Regions from separate parts of the Homo sapiens genome. Here regions 2 and 3 are each linked to region 1. The links come from fine-mapping of genetic effects on gene expression. A gene starts in region 1. Each other region holds a variant in brackets. All regions are shown on one strand. Distances are from middle to middle. Region 1 holds the start of RPP38-DT (RPP38 divergent transcript). Region 2 overlaps FAM107B (family with sequence similarity 107 member B). Region 3 overlaps NMT2 (N-myristoyltransferase 2).

Evidence for each region. PIP is the estimated chance that this variant, and not a neighbour inherited with it, causes the effect.
Region 2: its variant is fine-mapped to the expression of RPP38-DT in spleen (GTEx, PIP 0.95).
Region 3: its variant is fine-mapped to the expression of RPP38-DT in monocytes after Pam3CSK4 (Quach 2016, PIP 0.95).

The regions. Positions count from the first base shown.
Region 1 is chr10:15,091,633-15,102,312 of GRCh38, reverse strand. It overlaps RPP38-DT (RPP38 divergent transcript), which reads left to right and starts at 4,994. Exons shown (of 2, transcript NR_160789.1): 1 at 4,994-5,226; 2 at 5,448-6,928. It overlaps RPP38 (ribonuclease P/MRP subunit p38), which reads right to left and starts at 4,958. Exons shown (of 3, transcript NM_183005.5): 1 at 4,547-4,958; 2 at 1-95. It also overlaps the pseudogene GAPDHP45. RefSeq lists enhancers at 4,251-4,390, 4,451-4,540, 4,842-5,413 and a silencer at 4,681-5,040.
Region 2 is chr10:14,584,080-14,594,759 of GRCh38, reverse strand. The region is part of intron 2 of FAM107B (family with sequence similarity 107 member B); the gene reads left to right. Among named protein-coding and RNA genes, the nearest start is that of MIR1265, 150 kb to the right of the region's middle. RefSeq lists an enhancer at 6,283-6,482. The variant C/T (reference allele first, on the strand shown) is at 5,780.
Region 3 is chr10:15,153,704-15,164,383 of GRCh38, reverse strand. All of the region lies in intron 1 of NMT2 (N-myristoyltransferase 2), which reads left to right. It also overlaps the pseudogene PPIAP30. Among named protein-coding and RNA genes, the nearest start is that of NMT2, 9.6 kb to the left of the region's middle. The variant AATAAATAT/T (reference allele first, on the strand shown) is at 4,980.

The sequences.
Region 1 (10,680 bases):
CTGAGGTGGGAAGATCACTTGAGCCCAGGAGGTCAAGGATGCAGTGAGCGTGATTGTGCCACCACACTCCAGCCCAGTAACACATCTGACCCTGTCTGCAAAAAAAAAAAAAAAAAAATGATCTGAGCACCTCCAGTATGCAAGTGGTGTTCTAGGTCCTGGGGCTCACAGTAAGCAAGACCCGATGTCCACCCACGTAGAGCTCCCAATCTGCAAATACTCTGGTGGCCTCTGCCATTCACAACCAATCAGGTGTGATATTTTAAAGAACTGAACAGTCATCTCATGATTAAAACTTCAAATAACACTGTCACGTCCACTTTTGTAAGTCTCCCCACCTCCCAGGGCCCTAAATTTCTTGAATATCCTTCCTACAGCATTTGATACATATGCAGGCATACACTCCCTTTTTTTTGTTTTTTGAGACGGAGTTTTGCTCTTGTTGCCTAGGCTGGAGTGCAATGGCATGATCTCAGCTTATTGCAACCTCTGCCTCCCAGATTCAAGCGATTCTCCTGCCACAGCCTCCGGAGTAGCTGGGATTATAGGTGCCCAACACCACGCCTGGCTAATTTTTGTATTTTTAGTAGAGATGGGGTTCACCATGTTGGCCAGGCGGGTCTCGAACTCCTGACCTCAGGTGATTCACCCACCTCAGCTTCCCAGAGTGCTGGGATTACAGGAACGAGCCACCACTCCCGGCCAGTCCTCCTTTTTAGGGGGACCCCGAGCTGACTTCTCTGGCTGGCAATTCCATGAAGACTAGGGAAATGTAATGAAATTTAAAGATACTAATCCATTGAGGAAAAATGAGTAGAAGGATGCTTAATGGGGAAAATGTTATAAACTATTGGTCCAGAGGGCATATCCTTTTATCCTTCCCAGAGGCAACTACACACTCCCTTCTCTTCCCTCAGTTTTCTTCCCTTCCTTCCTGGGGCTCAGCTAGAATCACAGGGACCCACCTGGCAAAACTAAAGGAAGTTATATCCTTTGCATTTATACTACCACTTACTAGGCTGGCAGCTGATGTTGAAGGCAAGTGTGTCTGTGCAGTGTATCGCTGTATAAAGCACTCTCTCCATGTATTATTTGCTTCTTACAGCATTCCTATAGAATCCCCCAATGTGTGCATTAGGAAACTGACTCACTGCCTAAAGTCACAACTAGTTTTCCAAATCCAAGTTTTCTGTTCTTTCAATCCTTGCTACACCTCAAAAATAACCTGTGGCTTCTTAAAACATGCAGATGCTTGGTCCTCAACCCAGATCTACTGAATTGGAATCTTCAATAATAAGGCCTGGGCATCTGTGCTTATAAAAAGCTGCCCCAGGCCGGGTGCAGTGGCTCACGCCAGTAACCAAAGCACATTGGGAGCCCAAGGCGGGCGGATCATAAGGTCAGGAGTTCGAGACCAGCCTGGCCAATATGGCGAAATCCCGTCTCTACTAAAAAATACAAAAAAATTAGCCAGGCATGGTGGTGCCTGCCTGTAATCCCAGCTACTTGGAGGCTGAGGCAGGAGAATCTCTTGAATCCAGGAGACGGAGGTTGTAGTGAGTCAAGATCGCGCCACTGCATTCTAGCCTGGGCGACAGCAAGACTCCATATCAAAAAAAAAAAAAAAGTTGCCCTCGTGAATCTGATTCAGAGCCGGAATCAGGAACCACTGGTGTAGGACAGGGTGTTTCCACACTGGACAGCCCCGAGAAAGGGCCCCCTGAGCGCTATTGGTCTCTGATATTCTTCCCAGACACTTTCCCACAGAAAAGCCAAATTCAGCTCCTTAGGGTGAGAGATCACACCCTGGTCATCTCGGTACAGCAATCCTGGAGACTTCTGGGGCCTAAGCTGCTTCCTTCACGGTGGCCACACTGTGTCCCCTGACCCCATTATCTCTATGCTCCCCTAGAGCTCAGGAAATCAGGAAGAAAAGTGGCTCATCCAGATGCAATGCAGTGACTGTGAGGGGCTGGCATCAGGTTCAAAGTGGTCAGGAAGAGGGAAATAAGTGACAGGGGGTGAAACAAATAGGATGGGGCAGAGCTCTTGCCAACTGCAAGTCAGATGATGTCTCCACATCCAAACACCACAGAATAAATACTTAAAATCATGCTCCAGAGGGATCACAAAACAGGCTATAAACTTGTCCCACCTGCAGAATCTGCTGGGGCGATAAAGAGAGCCAAGTAGTCTGGATAAGCATAATCTCACGCAATATAATCCAGAAACAAAGTACTGACTGATAAGATTTTATAGCTTTAGAGAAAGAGAGAAAAATAGGCTTTGCTGAGGGCCCTTTAGAGCTGTCTCAAGAGGCCTCTGCTGCCTGTAGATCAAGGGCAAACTCTTTTTACTAGACAGTCTTGCCCTGTCACCTGGCAGTAGTGCAGTCGTTCGATCATGGCTCACTGCAGCCTTGAACTTCTGGGTTCAAGCAATCCTCCCACCTCAGCCTCATGCTGAATAGCTGGGATTATAGGCGCATACCACCAAGCCCAGAAAATTTTTTTAATTTTTAAATTTTCTGTATAGGCTGGGCACGGTGGCTCACACCTGTAATCCCAGCACTTTGGGAGGACAAGCTGGACAGATCACTTGAGGTCAGGAGTTCGAGACCAGCCTGGCAAATATGGTGAAACCCAGTCTCTACTAAAAATACAAAAATTAGCCAGGAGTGCTGGTGCACACCTGTAATCCCAGCTACTTAGGTGGGTGGCTGAGGTAGGGGAATTGCTTGAACCCAGAAGGCGGAGGCTGCAATGAGCCGTAATTGCACCACTGTGCTCCAGCCTGGGCAATGGAGTAAGACTCCGTCTTAAAAAAAAAAAAAAAAGAAATTCTATAGAGACAAGGTCTTGCTTTGTTGCCTGGGCTGGTCTTCAACTCCTAGGCTCAGGCAATCCCGTAGCCTCGGCCTCCCCAAAAGTACTGGGATTGAGGGCATGAGCTACCATGCCCCGCCTAAACTCTAATGTGACATAAAAGGCCCTCCACACTCCAGCTCAATCTCCCACTTAGGCCCTCTTTCTCCTTAGGCCCCACCAAGCACAAGTCCTCAACACCGAACAACATACTATTTAATGAGGCCAGCATTTTCCCACCTGCAAGTCTTTATACACATTAGTCCCTCTGCCTGGAATACCACTCCCACCCTCAGCCGCAGGCCCCTTCCTTTCTTCAACAAATATTTATCGATTATCCACGATGTGCCAGGCCATAAAGATTAAGTATTTTTTCTCACAGACCTCATGAGCTTAGAGTCCACGAGGAAAAAATATTAGCAAGTAATTATACAATAAAGCCTGATGCACATGAAGGTCAGGGAACAGTATGCTTAGGGAACATCCAGCAGAGGCCTAGCTTAGTTGAGGGGGGTGGGAAAAGGCAGTCCTCACAGAGGAACTTTTTTTTTTTTTTTTTTTTTTGAGACGGAGTCTCATTCTGTCGCCAGGCTGAAGTGCAGTGGCACAATCTCGGCTCACTGCATCCTCCGCCTCCAGGGTTCAAGCGATTCTCCTGCCTCAGACTCCCGAGTAGCTGGGACTACAGGCACGGGCCATCACGCCCGGCTAATTCTTGTATTTTTAGTAGAGACGGGGTTTCACCATGTTGGCCAGGATGGTCTCGATCTCCTGACTTTGTGATCCGCCCGCCTCGGCCTCCCAAAGTGCTGGGACTACAGGCGTGAGCCACCGCGCCGGGCCGGACCTCTTAACCTACATCTAAACAATGCCTACCAAAGGAAGTATGGAGTAAAGAAAGGTATCTCAGTATTAAAAGAAATAAGTTGGCTGGCGAGGTGGCTCACGCCTGTAATCCCAGCACTTTGGGAAGCCCAGGCGGGCGGATCACTTGAGGTCAGTAGATCGAGACTAGCCTGACCAACGTGGTGACCCGTCTCTACTAAAAATACGAAAATTAGCCGGGCGTGGTGGCAGGCGCCTGTAGTCCCAGCTACTCGGGAGGCTGAGGCAGGAGAATCGCTTGAACCCGGCAGGCGGAGGTTGCAGTGAGCCGGAATCGCGCCACTGCACTCCAGCCTGGGCGACTGCTATGTCTCAAAAAAAAAAAAAAAAAAAAAAACACGTTCAAATAAGTTCAATGTGGCTGGGGCAGAGATGCTAGAGAAAGCGGTGAGAAACTAGGAAAGGTGGGTAAGGACCAGATAATGAAGACCTTTGCAAGCGTTCCAGTGTGAAGCAACTTTAACATCTAAAGCAGAGGTGTCGTGATTAGAAAGACGTTATAGATCTTTGTGGATCTGGGCAAAGGAAGAGTCCCCGAGCAGCAAAGACGCTCCTGGAGTCGTCCAGGTTAGAAATGACGGTGGCCTGCACTAGAGACGCCGCAGAAAGGACTGGAGAAAAATACATGTTAGTCGGAAAAGAAGGTAGAATCTCCCGACACAGTAGTGACCAGCTGGAAGTAAAGTTGAGAACGGTATTGGTGGTGACTCCCGGTTTCTGGATCCCGCCGGTAGCCGAGGGGCGACGGCCGACCCAAAGCTCACCTCCCCACTGCACGCCGCCCCTGGATCGAGTACCTTGGTGCTTTACTATTTAGCACACGGAAGTGTTGTTCTGTTGTCCGTGTCTCCTTGGAGACCGTGGAGAACAGAAGGGCCGGCGGGGGTTTTCGCTTTGTACTCCTGGTGCCCAGCCGGCGCTGCAATCCAGCAGAGGAGCCGGACTAGAAACGCGGAAGCTCTGGGTGCACGCGCCCGGCCCGGGACTGGGCGGCCCAACCGGGAGGGCGGCGGGTCCTGCGGCCACGCAACAGGCGTTGGGGAAGCAGCAGAGACCCTGCGTGCGCGCGGGCTTCGGCCTCCAGATTCCGCAGAGTCCCGGGCCCGATCCCCCCGGGGCTGGCCTCCTGCCCTACGTGGGCCCCGCGCGCCCACCTGGAACTCACGATGGCGAATCCGTGGTCACCTGAAGGCAACAGCACCGGCGCCCAGTGCGCCTGCGCCGCGCGTGCGCAGAGCCCTCGCCTCCCGGCCTCGCCTCGCAGACGCGACGGGCCGGGGAGGAAGCGCTCGGAGCAGTGCAGGTTTCGTTATCCTGTGTTAGGTCACTCCGGAGAGGGGAAAGCGGCCCACAGCGTCGCGCGACCCGGAAACGACACAACGAGGCCCAATCTTTTAGACTCGAGTTTAGGCCCCGGGGTGGAGTCTCCGGACCGGGTCCCCCCACCCCCGCTACAGGGGCAGTGCGCAGGCGCGAGGTATGTATCGCGAGACCATGCGGTTGCCCGGGTAACCAGACGCTCAGGACTTGGACCGTCCAGTTGTTCGGAGGCCAGCCTATAGCCAATGGTATCCCGAGGGCTCGCTCTCTCCGGGCGTTTGTGCTCCCCTCTCTCTTCTAACCCAGTTTCTACCTTTCAGTGCTTTGGAATCTTAGCCCTCTGTCTCTATTCGCTTTTCTGTATTTGCCTTGCCTCAGGGACGCACAACCCCAGCCCCTGTCCCAGTGAGCCCGTCGCCATGGAATCCCTGCAGACTCCCCAGCACCGCGAAAATCAAGATAAAAGGGAGAAGGAGTATGGGGTAAAACACATGCCTATGGGCAATAATGCAGGGAATCTTGAGCCCGAAAAGAGAAAGGCAGTAAGAGTTGCCTTGAGTTCAGCAACAGCTGCACAGAATATCCCGTCCAGTGTCCACTGTGGCTGCTCCAAGCAATGGAGACTCAGGCTACCATCGGAGTCGCTGCAAAGTCGGGGACAAGTGATGAAGCGGCCGAATAACATTTTAAAGCTCAGGAATCTGGATCTGTTGATCTACCCTTGGCCAGAACTTAGAAGACGGCAGGTTGCTTCTGACCTAATGAGCCTCCTCCTTCTCCCCGCTTTTTCCGGCCTTACTTGGGCCCCCTTCCTTTTCCTCTTTACGTATCTGCCTCCTTTTCTCAATCTCCTCACTGTTGGTTTTGTATCCTATTTTCTGGTATAGTTTCTGTGATTTCTTTCTTTTATTTATTATTATTATTGTTGTTGAGACAGAGTTTTGCCCTTGTTGCCCAGGCTGGAGTGCAATGGCGCGAACCTGGCTCACTCCAGCCAGCGCCTCACAGGTTCAGGTGATTCTCCTGCCTCAGCCTCCGGAGTAGCTGGGGTTACAGGCACGGGCCACCAGCCCAGCTAATTTTTGTATTTTTAGTACAGACGGTGTTTCACCATGTTAGTCAGGCTGGTCTCGAACTCCTGACCTCAGGTGATCCGCCCACCTCGGCCTTCCAAAGTGCTGGGATTACAGGCATGAGCTACTGTGCCCAGCCTCTATGATTTCAATTTTCATGTTTAAGTACCTATGTAGAACCTAACTGTCCATAAGTAAACACAACAAAAAAAAGATTTGGCTTTTGGTCAAAGATCATTGGAGGTTACACAGGGTAAAGTGCAGTATGATTTTTATCACAATTAGAAAGATTAAAAAGAGATGACAGTGAGTTTGTGAGAACAGGTTTGTGTTTCATAAAATGAATTGTGTGAGTTAGCTATGATGAACTGCAAGCAGCTTGCATTTCCAAAGACAAATAGAGACACAGGAATCTAATTAAAATGCTAAAGTAATGGGAAGGAGACATCCATACGTTTTTGTCCCCCTAAGGTTCCAGATTTATAGTTTGAGCATCATCTCGGCTTACATTTTCTCTGTGGAAAACATCAGCCATTACATTACTTGGCTCTGGGTTGAAATCCTAACTTCATCAACTGAAGATCTTATGACCTAGGCAAGTTTATTAACCTCCTCTATGACGTGATAAAAATAGTATCTCTTGTGCGGATTAGAAGACATGTTCCTCTATGCTAAGATGATTATTATGTGCGGAACACATAGTTAAGTGCTTGATAAATTGAACTATGGCAAATCCAGTCTCAACCGTGGCAAAACTAAGTTAATAAAAATGAAACATAACCTTTATTATTTTAGTGCTTGTGTTTTATTTTAAAACTAGCAGTATAATTTCCACGAGGATTTTGCTAAAATTAACAAGTACATTTCGAAAGTAATTTCTGTCCCTCTTGTATCACACAAACATTACAACCAAAAAGTAAAAAACATTCTCCCATGACCCAATCACACCCATTTTTTTCTTTAGTGTTCCCTTCTACTTTGTTTCACATATGTGCATGCTTTTACATTAAACTAATACAGATTAAGTCTTCTGATTTTCTTTACACATAACGCTTTTTCATGTTTCTCAAATTATTACTTTACATATTTGATATCCTATTCTGAAGAAACGGTTTTTTTTTTTTGGAGACAGGGTCTTGCTCTGTTGCCCAGGCTAAAGTGCAGTGGCACCATCTCAGCTCACTGCAACCTCCTCCCAAGCTCAAGTGATCCTCCCACCTCAGCCTCCTGAGTAGCTGGGACTACAGGAGCATGCCACCATGCCTGGCTAATTTTTGTACTTTTTGTAGAGACGGGGTCTTGCCATGTTGCTCAGGCTGGTCTCAAACTCCTGGGCTCAAGTAATGCTCCTACCTTGGCCTCCCAGAGTGCTGGGATTACAGATGTGCACCACCACACCTGCCAGTTTTACTTTTTAATGACAGTTGTTTTATCCTGTAAAATCTGTTTGGTCTTTGTATATTAGAGCTTTCTTTTTATATTAATTCTAGAATTGGACTACTGTTTGATTTGTATGCTTTCCATTATTTGACAATGACTTAAGATTCTGAGTGATGGCCGGCTGTGGTGGCTCACACCTGTAATCCCAGCACTTTGGGAGGCTGAGGCAGGAGGATTGCTTGAGCCCGGGAGTTCAAGACCAGCCTAGGCAACATGACGAAACCCCGTCTCTACAGAAAAAAAAAAAAAAAAAATTAGCTGGGCATGGTGGTGTGTGCCTGTAGTCCCAGCCACTCCTGAGGCTGAGGCAGGAGGATTGCTTGAGCATAGAAGGTGGAGGCTACAGTGAGCTATGATCACACCACTGCACTCTAGCCTGGGCAACAGAGTGAGACCCTGTCTCCAAAACAAATAAATAAAAAGATTCTGAGTAATAAATTAGATCATTAGCCACAATCCTTTGATGAAATAAGTGAAGGTCCCAACAAGAAAATTTGTCAATAGAAGAATGTAAGGGAATTGACCACCAGATTCTTCTTTTCCTCCATGGTATTCTGACCTTAGCTGTGTGTGTGTGTTTGTGTGTGTGTGTGTGTGTGTGTGTGTGTGTGTGTTATGTAACAGTAGTTGTTATGTAAACAATTCATTATTTTAAATCAGTTACTAAGAATAAACTTTAATGATGAGATGCAAAATGAATACTGAAAGCTTTACTAATTGGAACGGTATAGTACTCCAAAGAATATCTGTGTCCATAGAGACAAGTGAAGGTGAGGAGTTTCAAGCAGTTGAGCAATTCGCAGGTCTCACAAAACAGCAAAATCAAGACCAACATGATGTCAGCTCCCTGCATCTCTAATCCCATGGGACAGCATTCCCAATCTCAGAGGTCAGATGACAGGTCTTATGAGTGGTGGGTCACTCTGTCGAGGAACAAACTAAACTTCAGCAAGCAGTTCTACAGATTTACACAGAAGCCTGCGGCTCCATCCTAAAGTGGAGCAGGTTGTAGGGGGTGCGGAGAAAGAAGGGGAAGATGGAAAGCCCTAGTCTCAACTAAACTAGGGACATGGATGAGAAACAGCCTTGTGAGACTCTCCCACAAGATAGGGAAGCCCTGTGGGCAAGGTCATCCCTGAGCTGAATGGGAACCTCCCTGGCATGGCCTTTTGTGTCCCCACTGCCAACGTGTCAGTTGTGGGCCTGAACTGCCATCTGGAAAAACCTGCCAAATAGGATGACATCAGGAAGGTGGTGAAGCAGGCTTCAGAGGGCTCTTCAAGGGCATCCCGGGCTACACCGAGCACCAGGTCATCTCCTCCAACTTCAACAGTGACACCCACTCTTTCACCTTCGATGCTGGAGCTGGCATTGCCCTCGACGACCACTTTGTCAAGCACATTTCCTGATATGACAGTGAGTTTGGCTACAGCAACAGGGTGGCGGAGCCCACATGGCCTCCAAGGAGTAAGACCCCCGGACCACCAGCCCCAGTGAGAGCACGAGAGGACGAGAGAGGCTCTCACTGCTGCGGAGTCCCTGCCCCACTCAGCCCCCGCCCCCACTGAGAATCTCCCCTCCTCACAGTTTCCACGCAGACGCCCTGAAGAGGGAGACACCATGGGAGCCTCACCTTGTCGTGTACCATCAATAAAGTTTCCTGCACTCAATCAAAAAAAAAAAAAAAAAAAAAAGGGAAGCCTTGCCTTGCTCCCAGGGAAATCACAGGCATTCGGCGAGGACTCAGGGTAGACCGCAGTCAGGCCTTGGCTCTGTGGCTATGTGGAGATGTCCAAGGTTGTCAGGGGTCTCAGCAGTGCTGTTTTATGAAAACGGGGAAATTTGAAAGACATTTAATCCTTCCTTTTTATCCCCCTCCTCCCTTTCTTCCCCCCCCCCCCGCCTTTTCCTACAGGTACAATATTCATTGAATTTTAAGTGTTGGGGATAAAGTGGTGAGCCAGAGTTCTAAAGGAGGAGAAACGGTAAACAAAGTAAACGATTTAAGTTGTCAGATGATTCAAAGTGCTACAGAAAAAAAGCAGGGAAGGCCAGGCGCGGTGGCTCATGCCTGTAATCCCAGCACTTTGGGAGGCCAAGGTGGGCAGATCACTTGAGGTCAGGAGTTCAAGACCAGCCTCGCCAACATGGTGAAACCTCGTCTCTACTAAAAATACAAAAATTAGTTGGGCATGGTGGCGCACACCTGTAATTCCAGCTACTCGGGAGGCTGAGGTAGGAGAATCACTTGAACCTGGGAGGCAGAAGTTGCAGTGAGTCCAGATCATGCCACTGCACCCCAGCCTGGGTGATAGAGTGAGACTGTATCTCAGAAAAAAACAAAAGCAACACGAAAAAGCAGGTAAGAGTGGAAGGGGGTGCTAGGATGGGTGATAAAAGGCCTCCTGAGATGACAGATGAGCAAAGACCTAGAGGAGTGGAAGCACTGAGCCAGGCCGACCCTGGGAAGATAATTCTGAGGTAGAGACGGGAGAGCAGCAGTGCGACAGGCCTGTTAGAACAGCCGGGAGGCCAAGTGGAGCGGAAGCCCTTTGAAGGCAGGTAAGAATGAGAACAGAAGAAAGACGGAGAGAGATGGCCAGAGGCTCATAGACGAGAAGACCAGGCTAAAGCTATTTCTTGTCTCAAAGTCTTCCTGGAGGTGTTGCCATGTCGGCTAAGTCTTGAAGGAGGAGTTGGCTGTTAAGAAAGTGGGAAAAGGAGCCAGGTATGGTGGCTCGCGCCTGTAGTCCCAGCACTTTGGGAGGCCAAGGCGGGTGGATCACTTGAGGTCAGGAGTTTGAAACCAGCCTGGCCAACATGGCGAAACCCCATCTCTACTAAAAATACAAAAATTAGCTGGGCATGGTGGCATACGCCTGTAATCCCAGCTACTAGGGAGGCTGAGGCAGGAGAACCACTTGAATCCGGGAGGTGGAGGTTCCAGTGAGCTGAGATGTCACCACTGCACTCCAGCCTGGGTGATAGATTGAGACTCCGTCTCAAAAACAAGAAAGAGAGAGAGAAGAAAGAGAAAGAGAAAAGAAAAAATCAAAGAGAGAAAGAGAGAGGGAGGGAGGGAAAAGAAAAGGAAAAGA
Region 2 (10,680 bases), 510 kb after region 1:
GGCACCAACCAATGCAGTTCCATGAGAGGTGCCATGATCAGTGTTTTTCAACAAGGGAGGTTAAAAGCTTGCTCGGGGTTTTAAGAGCTGGGATCAGACTTGGGCCTTCTTCTCATGGAGCTGTGTCTTTACTGCTTCTTCACACGCCCTTCACCATGTGTTTGAGGCTTGTGTCTTCGTAGCCTCACAAAGAGATTGGGATTCCAGTTGGAGAATGCATTTGCCAGTTTTGTTTTTTTTTGTTTTTTTTTTTTTTTTGGCAGGGTCTTGCTCTGTCATGGAGGCTGGAGTGCAGCAGTGCCACCATAGCTCACTGCAGCCTTGAACTCCTGGGCTCAAGGGATCTTCCCACCTCAGCTTCCTGAGTAGCTAGGACTGCAGAGCGCTTCACCACTCTAATTTTTAAATTTTATATTTTGTAGAGATGAAGTCTTGTTCTGTTGCCCGGTTGGTCTTGAACTCCTGGCCTCAAGCAATCCTTTTGCGTTGGCCTCCCAAAGTACGGGTGTGAGCCACCGTGCCTGGCTGAAAATTGTAGTTTTAAGGGGAATATTTGTACTGAATTTTTATTTTGGCATTACCGTATGGAGATGATAGTGTCTTAAAGTGATCCATTTGTGAAGTATTCTTAGGCATAGTGTCAGAATGGCACCAAATTAAAAACACATAATTATGTCATCAGGCAGAGCCTGTGTGTTTGAGTTGTTTTAAATGTTGTGTTTACCAGAAATGCCATTTTTGTACAGAGTGCCCCAAGGCTGTTACCCTATTAATGAATGGAATTTAATTAGGCATCATGCATTTTTCAACATGTTTATCTAATTGTATTATGTATAATACATTTTACTCTCGAACAGTTCTATATCTAAACGGTATTTTTTCCTGCCACATATAGTCTATATTGGAAGATTTCATAGTTTTGTATTGCAGAGGAGTTCTTTGTATATCCCAAGAATTCTGAAATTTTGGAAAAGATTTTAAACACCTTACACACTCAAGTAGCTTGGTAAGAGCTGGTTACATAATTTTAGCCATGATAAGCAATAATTTTCTTTTTTTTTTTTTTGAGACAGATTCTCAGTCTCGTCCCCTGGCTGGAGTACAGTGGTGTGATCTCAGCTCACTGCAACCCCCACTTCCCAGGTTCAAGCGATTCTCCTGCCTCAGCCTCCTGAGTAGCTGGGATTACAGGTGCCCGCCACTGTGCCTGGCTAATTTTTGTTTATTTGTTAATTTTTATTTTTATTAGACATGGGGTTTCACCATATTGGCCAGGCTGGTCTCGAATTCCTGGCCTCAAGTGATCCGCCCACCTCAGCCTCCCAAAGTGCCACTGCGCCCGGCCAGCAGTAAACTTTCTTGAATAAGAATTAGTGTTACACTGGGTTCTACCCCTGGTTGCTGGTAGAACAGTTTTTACTGGTGTCACATCTTCCTAAACTTTCTCAAATGGAATTATGGTGTCGTTAAACTTATTTTTCACGTTTAGTATGTTTTTCTCTTTTAAGGATTTTTAATTATAATTTTAGTTTACTAGTTCAAAGTAGCAAACAAAAAAGCTTTTTATGTTAGAATACCTAGTTTTAAGAATAAAAATTAAGAATTAATAATATTAAATTTTAATTTAAAAAGACTTCGTTCAAATCTTTGTTGATCTCTTTATCTGGGTAGGACCCCAGGGAAGTCTGCCATTTTTTAAAATATTAACCCGCTGAATGGTGGGCCTTTGAAATGAGTGAAAGAGGTCAACCATTGTTCCATATTTGTTGGGCAATTCCAGGCAGTGCAGTGGCCAGTTAGAAATCCTCACGACTTGAGCTGGAAGCCTGGGGGAAAGTAGGATTTGGGGGCAGAGGTAGGTACTGGAATGGTGCAGTGAAGAAGCTGTTATCTTCCGTTGCCAAGGGACTCTGTTCAGCTTTAATCTGTGTCCTGGCTGGACGGTGCATGTCAGCTGCCCAGGCTACCAGTGTGCAGGGCGCAGGAGTTAGAAGCAGGCCCCAGTCTGTTTCTTTTTCCATTCCAGAATCGCTTCTGACTGGCACATGCCTTGAAGAGAGGAGATATTATCTTGCAAAACTGATCCAAGTAAAATTGAAATTGCAGGGAGTAAAAATTGGGCTGTACATGTAATGCATGCACTTTATGCAAGTTATGCCTCAATTATATATTTTTAAAAAGATACACGAAAAACAAAGCCAAACTACAAAACCCCTGGGTAGAAATGCAGGATTAGACACTGTTAAGGATGCAAAATCTAAGCCACCTGTTAGGTGTTGTCTCTTTTTCTCCCCTTTCACTTCAGAGGTGCCTTGTTTTGATTCACGTGATAAATTGACTCTGGACAGACCTGTGATTTTATGCTTTTTTATGTGAATGGCTTTCCCATGAAGCCTCAGAGTTGCTACGAACCTGCTGGCAAAAATTTCCAGCAAAGGAACCTGTACATTTCCGCACTAGTAGCCCCAGGAACTGCCTCTTCCTTTGCCAAAGCTGAATCATCTTACCTGAGGGTTTCTTGGTCCTGAGCTGGGTGTGGCCCAGCCATTCATAGCCTAGTTTCTGTGCTGGGCCCTGACCTTTCAACTCGGGGATGGCTGGGCATGCAGTTTGGGAAATCAGATGGCACGGGATCGGGGAAGCCCAGGGATCTGCTGAACTTCCCACCTCCCCAGCATTGATTTCATCCCTTATTCACTTAGAAATGGCTTTTCTTAAGGACCAGGATTTGAACAAAGTCTGTCCAATGCATTTGATGGTTATGCCTTTTAAAGCTGTATACATATAGAACAGTTCCTTTACCCCCACCCCTTCCCCCCATGCTATTGACTTGTTGAAGGAATCAGGTCACTTGTTCCGTAGAATGTTCCACATTCTGGATTTGGGTGCTGGGTTTCTTTTAAACTCATCCCACTAGTCCCTGTATTTCTGTAAACTGGAAGTTATCATGAAAGCTTGATCAGATTCATGTGCAGTGTTTTTGGCAGGATTAATTTGTTGGTATCATCTGGCTTAACGTTGCCTCAGCTTAGGAAAAGGTCTGACTGTCTCACGTGTAGTGATTCTAAAACTGAGCGTTGGGGTCCTGTGGTGGGTGGCAGCTTGACCCTTTCATTTCCTCATCGATCTTTCTCCCAATGCCGTTAGCATTCATCGATGACTGTTGTTTGAATTAATTATTTCATTAGAGATTGTTGATTCTTCTCTCTTAATGAGATGGCAGTGAGCATGAGATGAGATTTAAACTGACCAGGGTATCGGGGAAAACTGACAACATTGATACAGCTTAGGGGCATCTACAGAATTCACAGAAAAAAGCAAAGATTGGCTTGGCTCTTGCAGTTACTGTGAGCGCCTCCTGTTATTAAAGTTAATTACCGTTTGCACGGTCTTCTGTGGATGTTACCCTGTCAGGTTAATTTTGTTATTTAAGTCTTGAGTTGCAGCAATATTAAATTCTGTGCATATGTGCTAACTCTCTTTTTTATGTAACTTGGGTGCCTGTTCACCTAAGTTAGGAGAGAATGACCTAGGTTTAGGAGGTAGAATTCCCCGTGATGGTGCAGACCATGATAGAGAGTATCTTTTTCAATTGTCATTTTAAATTTTCTGACTTGTAAGGAGACATTCATGCTCAGTCTTTTCTTATAAAAGATCAGTCATTGATGAGTTTAAGATAACTAGAGGAGAATGATACATCTGAAATAGTTTTGTGTTTTCTTCTGCAAACATACGGAAGAAATGGATCTTTTTTTTTTTTTTTTTTTTTTGAGATGGAGTTTTGCTCTTGTTGCCCAGGCTGGAGTGCAGTGGAACGATCTCGGCTCACTGCAACCTCCGCCTCCTGGATTCATGTGATTCTCCTGCCTCAGCCTCTCAAGTAGCTGGGATTACAGGCACGTGCTACCACACCCATCTAATTTTGTGTTTTTTTTTTTTTAGTAGAGACAGGGTTTCTCCATGTTGGTCAGGCTGGTCTCGAATTTCTGACCTTGGGTGATCCGCCTGCCTCACCCTCCCAAAGTGCTGGGATTACAGGCATGAGCCACTACGCCTGGCTGAGAAATGGATCTCTTAATGGCACCTCTCAACTTCATTGTTAAGAGTGTTTGGAGAGGGTAGATACTTGAATTGTTTCTGTTAGGAAGAAATTGAGAGTTCCTTTGGAAGAAGCATGATCGTAGCGAATGAATTTAATTTACATATGCTCCATCAGCACCAGGCTGCACGGTGACATACTACATCCGCAGTTTGATTTTGGGACAACTTCCATACTTGAAGGCTACCAGAATGGAAATATATTGATTCTAACTATCATGGGCAAGCCTGTCTTTTGCCACAATGTGTTGTTTGAAACCTATTTGTTAAAAGGATCATTATAAAGTAGGTTCTAGGATTCCCATAGTCACAGTCTCATTCTGAGGAGTCGTGCTGTTGACCAAACACTTGATTTCATATAAATCATGGCTGTGACCAATAAGTCCTAAAAGAAAGATGTGAAAACTAGAAACGTGGAAGAGTTTGAAATCATAAATGTTGCTTCTGTTGTCAGAGAGGTCTTGAGCTTGGAGAAGCCATAGAAATGAAGAGGTCATCTAATCAAGATTCTTCATTTTTGGTGAATAAACCAACGCTTAGATGTGTTAAATTGCTTGCCCAAGACCACACAGCTAATGATTTGTAGAGTTGGAACCAAAACTCATCCTGGAATAAGGACCATTAGTACGTTAAGTGTTTCTTTTGAACATGTTAAATGCTTCTTACATGCATCATTTTTGGATCCTCATGACAACCCTGTGATTTAGGACTGTAATTGGTTTTATTTTCTGAGGAGGATGTTGAGGCATAGAGACATTGAATATCTTGCCCAGGATCACCCAGGACTGAGATATATTCACTGCAAAGAATGTGCTTTTCTTTTTTTTAATTTTTAAAATTTTTAAATTTTGCTTTATGTTCTGGGCTACATGTGCAGTACATGCAGGATTCTTACATAGGTATACATGTGCCACGGTGGTTTGGCGCACCCATCAATCTGTCATCTAGGTTTTAAGCCCCGCATACATTTGGTATTTGTCCTAATGCTTTCCCTCCCCTTGCCCCTCATCCCCCAAGAATGTACTCTTATTCACCCTATGGTGTACTGCCTTCTGATTCATTCAGTCATTCATTTCTTCCTTGTTATTATTATTACTGTTTAAAATTCATTATTTCGTGTTAAAGGAATGCCTTATTCCTAACAGCCCAGAAACATTGCCTTTCAAGGACTTTCCATATACTCTTAAAATCTATATTTTTAAAAACCTACCAGCTCTAATTATTGCAGATATAGTCAGTGGAAATCACTAGCTATAATAAATGTTATTTGAATAATTGGTAATTGTGCCTGGCTTACTAGTATTTGAAAAAGCTTTCAGATTATAGATGGTTCAGGACTCTTATAAGATGTCTAGGTAAGTTTGAACTGATAGTTTCTTTCTTTTGATAAATGTCCTATGCCAACCTACAGCTTTAAAAATAATTCCTTTGACCATTCTTTTAAAAAGTCACCACTTACTCTTTTTTTTCTTTTCTTTTTTTTTTTTTGAGACAGTCTCGGTGTGTCACCTAGGCTGTAGTGCAGTGATGTTATCTCGGCTCACTGCAACCTCCTGGGCTCAAGTGATTCTCCTGCCTCAGCCTCCCAAGTAGCTGAGACCACCGGCATGCACCACCACACCCGGCTAATTTTTGTATTTTTAGTAAGGATGGGGTTTCACCACGTTGACCAGGCTGGTCT[C/T]GAACTCCTGACCTCAAGTGATCTGCCTGCTTTGGCCTCCCAAAGTGCTGGGATTACAGGCGTGAGTCACTGCGCCCAGCCTCACCACTTATTCTTTAAATTCTTGGAAACATCATGAAGGAATCAACTTGGGATGGGTTTGGAGCCCTCCTTCTCTCTCTTCTTCCTCCTTTTCACTCCCCTTCAGTAACAGTAACATCCTGGGGAGCTCTGAAGCTGAGATTTCATAAAGATCAGATGTGTTTTTGGGAGACAGCGTGTGTGGGGTGATGGGTGGGGAGGAGTGGAGGTGAGAAGTCACCCTGTGGCATGGGAGAGGATGTTTGATGTTGATTTTCTGAGTGTCAGCCTCCTGTTTCTCAGGACGGTTGGTTGACTGTCTTTTTCTCTACTTGCGCTGCCCACAAAGAGCCAGATGTGGGTGCCTCCGGGGGTTTATGGGACCCACTTACCTGTGTGAAGCTGGCTTACAGAGAGGGGAGAATGGGTAGACCCTGGTAGCGTCCAGGGAGACTTTCACGTGGGCGTGGTTTGTACTCTGACCCACTGGTGACTTTAAACAATTTGTCATCAAATACCACAGTTGGCTTTGCAGCTATCTGGTATTTGTGCCTGGAGTAGGTTTGTTTGTTTTGTTTTAAATGCTTCTAAATTACAATTCTTTGTGAGCTTCCTGTTTCCTACTTACAGCTGAAATATGTGATGACTGACTCTACCAGGACTGCTTTTTTCCCCTTTTCTGCATTTGTGCTGGAAACAGAACAGCTTGCACGCACAGCCTGGAGCATGTTGCCTGCATGTGCTTCTTGGTGGACGTGAGCACATGGCTGACTAATTTCAAAAACCGCCTATTTATATCCTCTTCAGAAGCGCTGTCAGACATTAGGCACTCTCTCTACTAACGTCACGTCGATTAATATGGATTTTAAAATGGAAGTAAATTATTTTTTACTCATGGGTGAGTCATTAGATAGTCTTTTTTAAATATACATCCCACCATTTCTCTCAAGGGTGTCACACTGGTAATTGTCCCATGCTGGAGTTTTCAGCAGTTATCATAGGATTGAGTGCAGGAGGAGGCTGTGGAGAACACCTAACCCTCTGATTTTATAGATGAAATGACAGCCCAGGGTTGCTGAATTACTGAGAGCTCAAAGCTCCTTGGTGCAAATCTAGGACTAGAGCTCTCTCCTCCCGTAGCTTCGAATTGAGCACAGTGTCCTTTACTGTCACCCACCTTGCCTCACCCTACCTACCCCACATGCTGGCACTTGCCACCACAAAAGAATAAAAACAAGGACAGGAAACAAAACTTCCTAGTTGCTAGGGTTGTGGTGACGATTTTATAGCAGAAAAGAAAATAATGTTTAAGATATGTAATCCTAAAGAAACTGTCTTTTTTTGGATGTTTGTGTAAGACAAATTCTTATTCATACTAATGGAAAGTCTTAAAAACATTAAACATGAAAAATAGTTGTTCATACCATGAAAATAAGCCTAGGCATTTATTTAAATGTATGAGAACTATCTTTGTCGACTGTGTCTGTTGTCCACATTTTGACTTCTAGGGCTAAGCAACTTCCCGCGATTGGATAAATATGGGAGTTCTTTCTAAATAAATATATGAGAATATATTTCTGTGCATAAATACATGAGAATAAATACATGAGTACCTGCATTGTGTCTTACACTGTCATTATCCTCAGGCTTTTTTCAGATGTATGTTGTCATTTATTAGTTCCGACACTGGCGCATTAGAAGGACGATGAACTTTTTGCTAGATAGACCTAGGTGGCATGTCGTAAGTGCTTTTATCTTGGTGAGTTCAAGTTTTCTCATCTCTGCAGTGTGACTATTATCAGGCAGGAAAAGCACCTGGCACAGTGCCTGTACACAGGTGTGAACAGAGGTTAGTGTCTGCTCCCCCAAGGTGGTGTTGTGATGTGATGTCATACGTGATTGTTTACACTCTCACCTGATGGGCGAGACTATTCCATTCTCATAGGACTCAATGAGAGAGAGTTTGTCCCAGGATTGGGGTGAATGTTTCACCTATATCATCCTCTTGGGCCTTCTCCACCTGAAATGTAGCCTAGTTTGATAAGCAGTGGTAGAATACAGAGACAGGTTAGGAACCTGGTGGGGGTAGAGGGTCCATACTGGAGCTCTGGGATCTAATTGGAGAGTGGAGGAGCGACCCTGGGCTCAAAGGTATGGCTGTCTTCATCCATTTGGGCTGCTGTAACAAATACCACAGACGGGGTGGCTTAAACAGCATTTATTTCTCACAGTTCTGGAGGTTGGGAACTCCAAGATCAAAGATGCTGGCAGATTTGGTGTCTGGTGAGGGCTCCCTTCGTGTTTTGTAGAAGGCCACCTTTTTGCTGTATCCCCACATGGTGGAGAGGGAGATCATCTGCCTGGTGTCTCTTTTTCTAAGGGCACTAATCCCATTCATGAGGGCTCCACTTCTATGACTTAATTACTTCCCCTAAGCCCCACTTCCAAATATCATCACGTTGGGATTAGGGCTTAAATAATATGAATTTATGGTGGAGGAGGAAAAAATATTCAGTCCATAGCCATGGCCAAGGTGAGCAGAGGCTTCAAGTCTATGGGCAGGCAGGATTCTCATCTCATATATTTTTTTCTTTTATTTTTAAATCTACCACAGAGACGTTCTTTGCTACAGGTAGGATTCTTAAAAGCAAAGCAGTGTTCTGAAGAGAAGGTGGGTTTTCAGTGGCCTGGGATGGAGGAGGATAAGGAGGATGTGAGTTGTAGAAGTGAGAGTGAGGCTGAAGGTCAGGAATTGAACTAGCACATGAGGAATTCGGGTCAGGAGGTCACCAGTAACCAGGAGTTGACAGTGATGCGGACTCAGTGCCCTTGCCCAGGTATTTTGTTGCTTGCTGGGTTCCTGTTTATGCAGGAGCTGATTGCTGGCTGGGAGCACCCCTGCACGCCCAAGCAAGAGGGATCCAGGGTCAGCAGTTAGTGGCAGGAGAACCCCCTGAGGGTGCCTTGTATGCAGGGAGAGTGCATTTCCTGTTTGGTTTGGGACGAGCCTGGTCCAGGTGTAATTAGTAACAGAGGCTTCCTCCTTACTCAGCAATGACTGCTGTGGTCGACAATTAATATGGTCACCCTACTCACGAGTACTTGGTTGCAGAGAAGTATTTGTTATGTGTATGAGTGAAGATCCTGACCAAAGATTTGACCACACAAGGTTCTGTGGTGAGTCCATGGTTTACCTGTCTCATGGGCGGAGCTTGGCTGCCTCTCTTTGTGTACTTGTTATTTGAATTCCAAAGAACGTTCTGCGCCACACTTTTCAGAGCTCTTTTCTCCCAGTGTGTGTTTTAGATGGCCGTCTGTTTTGTCATTGATAAGCTAATTCTGTAAACCTCAGGGCAGCTGCACATGCAGCATCTGTAATTGCACCTCTGTAATTGGCTGGAGTGCTCGAGAGACTGTACTTGCTTTTCCTGGCGCCCCCCAGGGTCCGTGGCTTCACCTAAAGGCTTGGTGGCAGGGACTGGTGAGAGAGGGAAGAGGAAGAGAGGAGGGAGAGGATTCTTGGTCTTCTACTCATCAGCCTGGTTGACAGGGGCTGGGAAAGTCTGATTCTTAGTTGACTGCCGGGAAGATGGGGCTTGCGAGAGTGGAGGGGGCTGAGGTGGGGTCCAGGTGTTACTAGTGGAGGGTGTCCAGGTTCTTGGCATTTTGAACAAAGAATTGGACAAAACGCACAAACAAAGCAAGGAAAGAATGAAGCAACAAAAGCAGAAATTTATTGAAAACAAAAGTACACTCTACAGGGTGGGAGCGGGCTGGGCATAGGGGCTCAAGAGCCCGGTTACAGAATTTTCTTGGGTTTAAATACCCTCTAGAGGTGTCCCTTTGGTTACTTGGTGTACACCTTGTGTAAATGAACTAATGGCTCACTATTGGTCTGATTGGTTATTTGAATCAGCAAGAGGGGAGCAATCAGAGGCTGAAGCGAAGTTACAAAGTTACACCCTGTGCCAACATCTGATTGGTTGCAGGAAGCAACCAATTACAGGCTGAAGTGAAGTTACAAAGTTATACTCCTGTGCAAATGAAGACTTGGCCTGTGACCAGCCTGATTGGTTGGAAGAGGGGACCAAGCAGAGGTCCTTTCAGTTTCACCTGCCATGCAGAAAAGGTGGGGGTTGCAAGGGGAGTGGCCTCCGGTCCTTTTGTTACATAGGTGTGGAAAGTTGGGGTTATCCTTTTGATTTAGTTCTAGGAAGTCAGTGTGAATCGGCCTTAGGTTCCCTGCCTCCAGCCCCTATTCTCCTGCCTCACAGGGTCCGTATCTTGGAGCTGTTTATAATTGTAGGGAGAGCACTGCACGTGTGTTCCTGGTTTTCTTTTGGTGTGGTTTCTCCATCCCTTTTGGGAGGAGTTGATGCACTTCCTTGAATTTCTGCACCAACTATTTTATTTGGATCACAGCATCTTACAGGCTGTTGTCATGTTTTGAGACTTTTTTGTTTATGGTGAAAATGGAGCGAAAGACTCTGAGTGCCGAGGGCCATGGGGTGCGAAAGCATAATTCTCATCGGCAGCTGGACCTCGGAGGTCCTTTTCCACCTTGGGGTTTTCCCCTGGTCACTTGGTTATACACTGCGTTTTTCCATATCTGGTTGGCAACTCTGAGGACAGGGACCCTTGGCATCCTCATCTTTGTGTCTCTTTAGGGTCCTATAGGGCTTAAGTGCTTCTTCCTGAGTCATTGCTGCTACTCAGCTGAGACACCAACGAGCTACCCAGATCAGACCCAGAGTGTTGCTGCTTATTTAGGTGGCAGCCTCAGGGCTGGGCATCAGGAGGGCCTGTCTTGCTTGGTCCCTCCATCAGTCTTTCTTTCGGAC
Region 3 (10,680 bases), 62 kb before region 1:
GAAAAATAGATGTTTCTCATAGCTTTCCGTTAAGAGAGCTTTTCCCTCAATATTCACTGGAAGCAGCTACTAAGAAGATTTATATAGGAACCAAAATAAACATAGGTGAGTATGTTTTTGTTGGCAGATACATGACTAAATTAGTCCCTGGGGTAGACATGAAATAGGGTTAAGACCTTTTTTTTTTTTTTTTTTTTTTTTGAGACCAATTCTCGCTCTGTCCCCCAGGCTGAAGTGCAGTGGCGCGATCTCGGCTCACTGCAAGCTCTGCCTCCCAGGTTCACGCCATTCTCTTGCCTCAGCTTCCGGAGTAGCTGGGACTACAGTAGGCGCCCGCCACCACGCCTGGCTAATTTTTTTGTATTTTTAGTAGAGACGGGGTTTCACCATGTTAGCCAGGATGGTCTCCATCTCCTGACCTTGTGATCCGCCCGCCTCGGCCTCCCAAAGTGCTGGGATTACAGGCGTGAGCCACCGTCCCCGGCCTAAGACGTTTTTAAGAGTTCTTTTTCTTAGAAAGATTGAAGATCTGGTATTGGACAAAGATGAAAACTTTGGAATTCTTTTAACAAAGAACATAATCTGTCTTCTACCATCCCCAATTTAGGGGGTAAAAAAAGGAAGTTCTTCTTTGGGCACTATGTTGTTGTATCTGACTTCATATGTCTGTTGTTGAAATTGAGTTGGGAACTTCCCCTTTGTCAGCTGTGTGGTATCAGTGGGAAAATGCAGAAACATTATGACTTGCAATAAGTTTTTCTTATGGAAAATTTAGGGATAACTCAAAGCTGCCCTTTCTGAAATTTGATCTGTTATCAACTGTATAAATCTAAATGGAAAAATAGATTAACGACAGTCTTTGCCTGAGGGACCTCCTCAAATCAAGAACTACTGTTTGAAATGATCAAGTGTCTGCTAAGACTTGCATCTGAATGGGTGATGTCACCCTTTGGCCCAGAACAAATTTTTTCCAGGGTTGTCTAAATATAGGACACATACTTTGCCATCTTTGTTTGTTAGTGCAAATGTACGTTATACATCTATACTAGTTAAAATCACTTTATTTTAACAGAACCAAGTTCTACTCCAAGTTCAAGAAATTGATTGTTGTTTTCTTTGAAAACATGTTAATGACGTTTTAAAAATACGCTTATTCAAAAATCAAACAATAGGGCCAGGTGTGGTGGCTCATGCCTGTCATCCCAGTGCTTTGGGAAGCCAAGGTGGAGGATCGCTTGAGGCCAAGAATTCAAGATCAACCTGGGGAACATAGCAAGACCCTATCTCGATGAAATAAAAAATGAGCTAGACATGGTGGTGCATGCGTATAGTTCCAGCTACTTGGGAGGCTGAGATGGGAGAATTGCTTCAGCCCAGAGAGCTGTGATCGCACTACTGTACTCCAGCCTGGGCAACAGAATGAGACTCTGTCTAAAAATATACATATATATATATCTCTCTCTTATATGTATATATTTATATATATCACATATATAAATATCAAAAGATATCAAATATATAGATATATAAATATCAAATATATAGAGATATATAAATATCAAATACAGATATATAATATCAAATACATAGAGATATATAAATCAAATATATATATAAATAAAATATATATATATATCAAACAATAAGGTATATAAGGTAGAGTGAAAGCCCCTGGTCACCTTATTTCCCAGAGCTGTCACCACTGATAGTTTAATGAACTCACTTTTTAATATGTGTGTGTGTTTAACATCGCTGGGATCTTACTGTACCTGGGTGCATTTGTTACCATGTATGTTTCGCTGACTCTTATTGTTGTGTGCTGGAACTTTCTGGGGTGATAGTAATCCAGTTGGGCAGTCATCAACACATGGAGCACTTGCATGTGACAAGTGTGACTGAGCTGAATGTTTTTATTTTATTTGAATTAATTTAAATTTAAATAGCTCCATGTGACTAGTGGCTATCATACTGGACAGCTCAGATCATATTCAGTCTTTGAATTTTGTTTATAAGCTTTCTTGGTACTCAAAAATTTCTGTATTTTATTTCCTGTCTTTGGTAGAATATGTCTAGTTTTCATTCTTTTTTTCTTCTGTGGATTATCTGTACACTTTTTTTTTTTTTTTTTTTTTGAGACAAGGTCTCACTCTGTCATCTGGGCTGGAGTGCAGTGGCACAATCTCAGCTCACTACAGCCTTGACCTCCTGGACTCAAGTGATCCTCCCACCTCAGCCTCTCAAGTAGCTAGGACTACAGGCACATGCCACCACACCTGGCTAATTTTTGTATTTTTGTAGAGACAGGGTCTCACTATGTTGTCTAGGCTGGTCTCGAACTCCTGAACTCAAGCAGTTCACCCACCTCCGTCTCCCAAAGTGTTGGGACTACAGGCGTGAGCCACCGTGCCCGGCGATCTGTACATTTTGAACAAGTATGTTTTCATCTATATTTCTTTATCCATATCAAAAAATTAACCACTATTTAAAATATTCTACCATCTCACAAGAAAAATCATGTAGGATATTTTGACTTCTTTTCATTTCCTAGGTTTAATTGAAATAACCTGGAATTGTAATTCTTTTATTTTTGCCCTTGTGTCACTAGAGACTTTTTTCTTAACTATTACATGTTTCACATTCCTGTTAACAAAAACATTTTAGACTTTCCTGACAGCTTTATTGTTTTTATGGGTTTCCATCGTTCTTTATAAAACACATCCTCCCGGCCAGGCGTGGTGGCTCGCACCTGTAATCCCAGCACTTTGGGAGGCCGGGGTGGGCGGATCACCTGAGGTCAGGAGTTCGAGACCAGCCTGGACAACATGGTGAAACCCCATCTCTACTAAAAATACAAAAAAACATTAGCCAGGTGTGGTGGCGGGCGTATGTAATCTCAGCTACTCGGGAGGCTGAGGCAGGCAGGAGAATCACTTGAACCCAGGAGGTGGAGGTTGCAGTGAGTCGAGATTGCACCATTGCACTCCAGCCTGGGCGACAGAGCAAGACTCTGTCTCAAAAAAATAAAAGTAAAAAATAAAACACATCCTGTCTTTTTCTTCTTTAACAGCATTCTCACATGATTTTTTTTCTTAGAGTGCGTGGATGATGTATTTTGAGTTCTTGCATGTCTGAAAATGCCATTCTTTTCCCCTCCCACATAATACATAGCCTGGGTGTGCATGTGACTCTATGATAACAATCGTTTTCCTTGAAACTCCATAAACGTTTTAATATCTTCCAGTATTTACTGGTACAGATGTTGTTTTCTTTGTGTTTTTTTTTTTTTTTTTTTTTTTTTTTTTGATTTTTGAGGCAGAGTCTCGCTCTGTCACCCAGGCCAGGCTGGTCTCGAACTCCTGACCTTGACCTCAGGTGATCCACCTGACTCGGTTCCCCAAAGTGCTGGGACTACAGGTGTGAGCCACTGTGCCTGGCCAGATGCTGTTTTCTCTGCTTCTCTGTCTTTTATAGGTAATCTTATTCTTTTTGTCTGTTTTAACTTGTTTTCAGTCTAGAAGCTTCTGGCATTTTTTCCCTGTTGTTCTATTACCAAAGGGTTTCCATGTCCTTTCACATGCTGGGATCGCCTGTCCTTTATTTTTTATTTTTTGCAATGGAGTCTTACTCTGTTGCCCAGGCTGGAGTGCAGTGTCGTCATCTTTGCTCACTGCAACGTCCACCTCCCAGGTTCAAGCGATTCTCCTGCCTCAGCCTCCCAAGTAGGCAGGATTATAGACGCACACTACCATGCCTAGCTAATTTTTGTATTTTTAGTAGAGACGGGGTTTCACCACGTTGGCCGGCTGGTCTCGAACTCCTGACCTCAAGGAATCTCCCCACCTCAGCCTCCCAAAGTGCTGGGATTACAGGTGTGAGCCACTGCACCTGGCACCTTTCCTTTACTATCTAAACAAAATGGCCTGAGCTGATACATGTTCATGGGGGTTTCTTGGGGTCTTAAGTTTTCATGGTCCTCAGGCACACCCACACTGCAGCCAACTTGCCCCATCACCGGGCTCCTTGTGCCTGTGTGTCCTTAGGGTGCTCTTTTTCTTCAACATTTGACCTTGGGTGGAACACGGTTATCTTCAGTTCTGTGTCTCTCACCACCCTCCTCCCAGGAATCACTAAAATCCAGCTATTGTGCACAGCATTTGCTGAAGCGTTTGTGGCTAATGGGGAGGGAGGGAGGTCTGATTACAGAGTAGCGCAGAAAACAACTTTGAATTCAGTGTCAGACATCATTGTTCACCAAGAGGAATTTGTTACTGCTCACGCCTTTCTGTGGGTCATGGCTTCCTCTGCTTCTGAGAGTGTCTCCTGATCTTTCTTCTCCTCTTCTCTAAGTTCAAGGTCAGCCCAAATGTCCTTTCTTTCATGAAGCCTTCCGCAGCCACTATGACCAAAGGCGCTGACCCCTGCCGGAAGCCCTGTAGCTCTTAGTGAGTGTATCTTTCCCGTGACATCTTTCCCAGTTGCTCTCACCTCATCTCCCCAGCCCTCTGCTCGGGAAGACCCTCATTCTCCTGCCCCAAGCTGTGGCTCCTAGAGGTGAGTTCCTTGTCCACAATCACAAATGGGAGATGTGGGTCTTTGCGTCTGTTGCTTAATGTGTGTGTAGCATCTACCAACCAGCTAGAGTAAAAGGTTTTATTTTGCTGGGCGCAGTGGCTCACGCCTGTAATCCCAGCACTTTGGGAGGCCGAGGCGGGTGGATCACCTGAGGTCAGTAGTTCGAGAGCAGCCTGGGCTACATGGTGAAACCCCATCTCTACTGAAAATACAAAAATCAGTCTGGCACGATGGCGGGCACCTGTAATCCCAGCTAATCGGGAGGCTGAGGCAGAATTGCTTGAACCCGAGAGATGGAGATCACTTTATAAGCACATACTGCAGTGAGCCGAGATTGTGCCACTGTACTCCAGTGAGCCTGGGCGACAGTGAGACTCTGTCTCAATAAATAAATAAATAAATAAATA[AATAAATAT/T]TTTAAGGAGGTTTTATTTAAATATACAATAGGTTATCTGAAAATAAAGTATGGCTGGACTTTATTAGAATTAAACATTATAGAAAGTCAAGTACCCAAGGTCCATCTGTCTTTCTAACCTCTCTCCCTTTCTGTCTCAGTCTCTGTCAACTAGACTGCCCCAAGCATCTGTTCCTTAGTTCAGATTCTCCAGAAAGGATCTCACTGGTTTCTGGCCAAGAAAGGGATTATCCAGGCATGATCCAGTCCACTGTGATGGAGAAGGGAAAGGGAGGGGTAGAAGAGAATTGTGTGGTACAACATGGCCACTGAGGGCCACACCTTTGGTGAGACCTGTGGGCAAAGGGAGTTTTCAGGGAAGGACATAGTGAACAATGCTGGCACCTTGCTGGGACTGAATTGTATCTCCCTGCCAATTCATATGTTGAAGCCTAAATCCCCAACGTGATGGTGTCTGGAGGTGGCACCTTTGGGGGGTAAATAGCTTACAAGGGTGGAGTCCCCATGAATCGGATCAGTGTATGCTTATAAAGAGATAGAGTCCAGTGCTTTGTTGCTCTGCCAAGAATAAGGCCCTCACCAAAAACCTGACCCTGCTGGCACCCTGATCTTGGTGGACTTCCAGCCTCCAGAACTGTAAGAAATAAATGTCTTTTCTTTAAGTAATCAGTCTATCGTATTCTGTAATAGCAGGCTGAACTAAGACACACCTCAAAACATGTTTGCAGAACACAGCGTGTCTGCCTGTCTACTCACAGGTAGATTGTGTGCATGGAGACAGCACTTTCAGTCTCCAATCCTTGCAATACCTGGTACCTTGCATGTGTTTGTAACTTACTAAAGATTTGCAGAATGGATTCCAATAGCTCTTAATTCCCATTGACAAATTTATTTCAAATTGTCTTTATTTTATATGCATTAAGAATATGTGAAGGCTTTTCTTTTTCTACTTCTCATTGAGAGGACTTTGGCTGTAGAGTTTTTAGTTTTGGTCTGCTATATAGGGCCCAACATTTTTAAATGGTAACTAATTTTTTGACCTCTTGGCATATGCTTATGTATTTTTCTTTTTTTTTTTTTTGAGACAGAGTATCTCTCTGTTACCCAGGCTGGAGTGCAGTGGCGTGATCTTGGCTCACTGCAACCTCCACCTCCTGGGTTCAGGAGATTCTCCTGCCTCAGCCTCCCAAGTAGCTGGGATTACAGGCGCCTGCCACCATGCCCGGCTAATTTTTGTATTTTTAGTAGAAATGGATTTTTGCCATGTTGGCCAGGATGGTCTTGAACTCCTGACCTCAAGTGATCCGCCCTCCTTTGGCCTCCCAAAGTGCTGGGTCTACAAGCGTGAGCCACCGTGCCCAGCCTTATATATTTTCCCTGGTTGACTCATTACAATAACAAATGAAGAGATTGTGGCTTATCAGTTTTAATAAGTTATCCAGGCCATAACTCAAATTCAAACTTAGCTTTTAAGTCTATCTGACTGTAAATCTGTTGCTTTTCACTAAACTACAGTCTCTTGGACTCTCAATAAGAGTAATTTGATAATGTCTCAAGGTCTTTTTCTTTATAAGTCATAGATTGATTACCAACCTGAACACCTTTGGAGCCAAAATTCACCAGTGTAATGGGTCAATGAATTAATTTTTTTAAAATCATACATTTCTTTGCTTAAAGAATATTGCAAATCAATAATTAGGAACTCTTTTGTCTCTAGTTCCTTAAAGGACTCCTTTTATTTTATAGCATCAGTGTACTTAGTAACAAGTTTTTTTCTTTTTTGCTTCTTTCATGGCTTAATCATCTCTTTTCTGACTGCCTTACCTGTAGCCTTGTACATATCAGCACCCCTTTCTCTGGAGCCTCTGCCCCCTGCCCCCAGCATCACCATCATTCAGAGTTCCACGAAGCCAGGTTCCTGTGAGAAGTGACATGGCCCACGGAATCTGGTTTTTCATCTCCTGGGTGAAAGCGCTGCCGGGAGGTACCCACTTCAGCCCTCTTGTACCCCATTGCTGCAGCCTATGCCCAGTCTGCCCTGGATGGTGGCTCTTTGTGGATGCTTTGAGTAAGTTAGTGGCCTGTCATGCTTTCCCAGCCTTAGGAGAAAACCTGGTTGGAGTCGAGGACTGAATTTGGATGTCACCTTTACAGTTTCTGTTTTGTTTAGTGCGCTTCTGTTCCTGGCTTAAACTCACAGTGCCCCGGGGAAATAGGGACTTCTTTATTTCCGTAGCTGTGTTCTCTCAGTGTTCCAGCTCATATAGTACCTTCCCAGAGAAGGTTGGGGATTCAGTTAACATAAGAAATTCCCATAGTTTTTTCCTTTAGTGTTTCTTTTTTTGGGAGGGCAGGGGGATAGTTGTTCTTCACTACTTTAGGGGTATTTATTAACATTTTAAGAAAACTGAAGAAAGAACCAGTGAAAGCAGAGTGCTTATTTTGGTTTCCAAATGAAGTTTTTAAAAAGTTCTTTTTGCGAAACCTTTTTTTTTTTTGTTGAGACAGAGTCTAGCTCTGTCGCTCAGGCTGGAGTGCAGTGGCGCAATCTCGGCTCACTGCAACCTCCGCCTCCCGGGTTCACGCAATTCTCCTGCCTCAGCCTCCTGAGTAGCTGGGATTACAGGCATGTGCCACCACGTATGGCTAATTTTTGTATTTTTAGTAGAATGGGGTTTCACCATGTTGGTCAGGCTGGTCTCAAACTCCTGACCTTGTGATCCTCCCGCCTCGACCTCCCAAAGTGCTTAGATTACAGGCGTGAGCCACCGCGCCTGGCCTGAAACCACATTTTTAATGTAGAACATTCGAATGAATCACTAAGCAAAAACGCCATGCCTTGGTATATTCATATATACATTTTCCTATTTATAAATATTTACAAAAATGCAAATATGGTAGCCTCCGCCCCGTATTAGTCCGTTCTCATGCTGCTATAAGGATGTACGTTAGACCGGGTAATTTTTAAAGGAAGAGGTTTAATTGACTCACAGTTCTGCATAGTTGGAGAAGCCTTAGGAAACTTACACTCATGGCAGAAGGGGAAGCAAACACATCCTTCTTCACAGGGTGGCAGGAGAGAGAAGAATGAGAGTGAGGGGGGTGAAAGCCCTTTATAAAATCGTCAGATTTCATGAGAACTCATTCCCTGTCATGAGTACAGCATGAGGGTAACCGCCCCCATGATTCAGTTACTTCCCTCCAGGTCCCTCCCATAACACATGGGGATTATGGGAACTACAGTTCAATATGAGATTTGGATGGGGACACACCCAAACCACATCACCGCCTTATCTGTGATTTTGCTTTCTGCAGTTTCAGTTACCCTTGGTCAACGTTGGTTCAAAAATATTCAATGGAAAATTCCAGAAACAATTCCTAAGTTCTAAATTTCATGCCCTTCCAAGTAGCATGATGAAATCTGGGGCCATCCCACCCTGTCCCGCCCTGGATGCGACTTTTCTCTTTGCCAGCGTCCCCGCCTGCAGGTCACTTAGTAGCCATCTCTGTGATCAAATTCACTGTCTTGGAATCACAGTGCTTGTGGTCAAGTGACCCTTACTTTACTTCCATGGCCCTAAAGCACAAGAGGAGTGGCACTGGCAATTTGGATACACCATAGAGAAGCCATAAAGTGCTTTCTTAAGTGAAAAGGTGAAAGTTCTCAATAAGAAAAGAAGATCACATACTGTGGTTGTAAGAAGGAATCCTTGGGGCCAGGTGCAGTGGCTCATGTCTATAATCCCACCACTTTGGGAGGCCAAGGTGGGAGGATCACTTGAGCCCAGGAGTTCGAGATCAGTCTGGGTAATATAGCAAGATCCTGCCTCTACAAAAAAAAAAAAAAAAAAAAAAAAAAAACTAGCCCGGCATAGTGGCATACACCTGTACTCCTAGCTACTCAGGAGGCTGAGGCGGGAGGATCACTTGAGCCCGGAAGTTCAAGGCTGCAGTGAGCTATGATTGCATCACTGCACTTCAGCCTGGATGACAGAGTGAGACCCAATCTCTTAAAAAAACACAACAAAAAAGGCTTTGCAGACGCCACCGCCACCAGGAGCCCTGTACTACCAGCCATGGTCAACCCCACCATGTTCTTCAACATCGCCATCAACAGCGAGGCCTTGGGGCACGTCTCCTTCGAACTGTTTGCAGACAAGTTTCCAAAGACAGAAAACTTTCGTGCTCTGAGCACTGGAGAGAAAGGATTTGGTTATAAGGGTTCCTGCTTTCACAGAATTATTCTAGGGCTTTTGTGTCAGGGTGGTGACTTTACATGCCATAATGGCACTGGTGGCAAGTCTGTCTACAGGGAGAAATTTGATGATGAGAACTTCATTCTGAAGCATACAGGTCCTGGCATCTTGTCCATGAAGCATACAGGTCCTGGCATCTTGTCCATGGCAAATGCTGGACCCAACACAAACGATTCCCAGATTTTCATCTGCACTGCCAAGACCGAGTGGTTGGATGGCAAGCATGTGGTCTCTGGCAGGGTGAAAGAAGGCATCAAGATTGTGGAGGCCATGAAGCGCTATGGGTCCAAGAATGGCAAGAGCAGGAAGAAGATCACCACTGCTGACTGTGGACAACTCTAATAAGTTTGACTTGTGTTTTATCTTAACCACCAGACCATTCCTTTTGTAGCTCAGAAGAACACCCTCCACCCCATTTGCTCGCAGTATCCTAGAATCTTTGTGCTCTCACTGCATTTCCCTTTGGGTTCCATGTTTTCCTTGCCCCCTTCCATGCCTAGCTGGATTGCAGAGTTAAGTTTATGACTATGAAATAAAAACTAACAAAAAATAATAATAATCTACCCATAAAATTGTGAAAAAGGAAAAATACCTTTGTGCATAGGCTATGAAGTTTAGGAGTGGGTACTAGCCATGGTTTTAGGCATCTCCTGGGAGACTTGGAACGCCTTCTTGAGGATAAGGGGCACCTACTGTATACTGTTTGTATTCATCTGTTGTCATTTGAAAGGAACTGAATGTCTTTCCAGGTCACCACACAGCCTGCACCTGAGTCAGGTCAATTGGCTGGCCATCCCGTCATGTGGTTCTACACAGGGTACCATTATTTATTTAGTCCCCTATTGCTGGACCCTCATGGCCAAGGCTGCCAGTGGGCCCCTTCTTCCACAGTGACAGTTTGTTCTGGGCACCTGGAGGGCCCCACTCATCCCTCCTGCTGGCTGGGATATGTGTACCAGTGGTAGGAAGTCATCCCACAGCACCTGCACCAAGCCAGCATCCTGGGGGCAGGGGAGACAGGACAGAGGGAGCCAGCCCTGCTGTCATTTTAGGGCACAAATTCCCCACTGAGGGATGCAGAGACCTTTTCACGAAAGATAAATGTGCTTGTGTTGTGAGCGGCTGTTATTTTGGGACTGGAGCCCACGCAGCTCAACCTGTATACTAACTAATAAAACGTCTGTGTGTAAGCCAGGTGCGGCGGCTCACGCCTGTAATCCCAGCACTTTGGGGGGCGAGGCGGGTGGATCACGAGATCAGGAGATCGAGACCATCCTGGCTAACACAGTGAAACCCCGTCTCTACTAAAAATACAAAAAAAAAATTAGCCGGGCGTGGTGGCGGGCACCTGTAGTCCCAGCTACTCAGGAGGCTGAGGCAGGAGAATGGTGTGAACCTGGGAGGCGGAGCTTGCAGTGAGCCGAGATTGGCCACTGC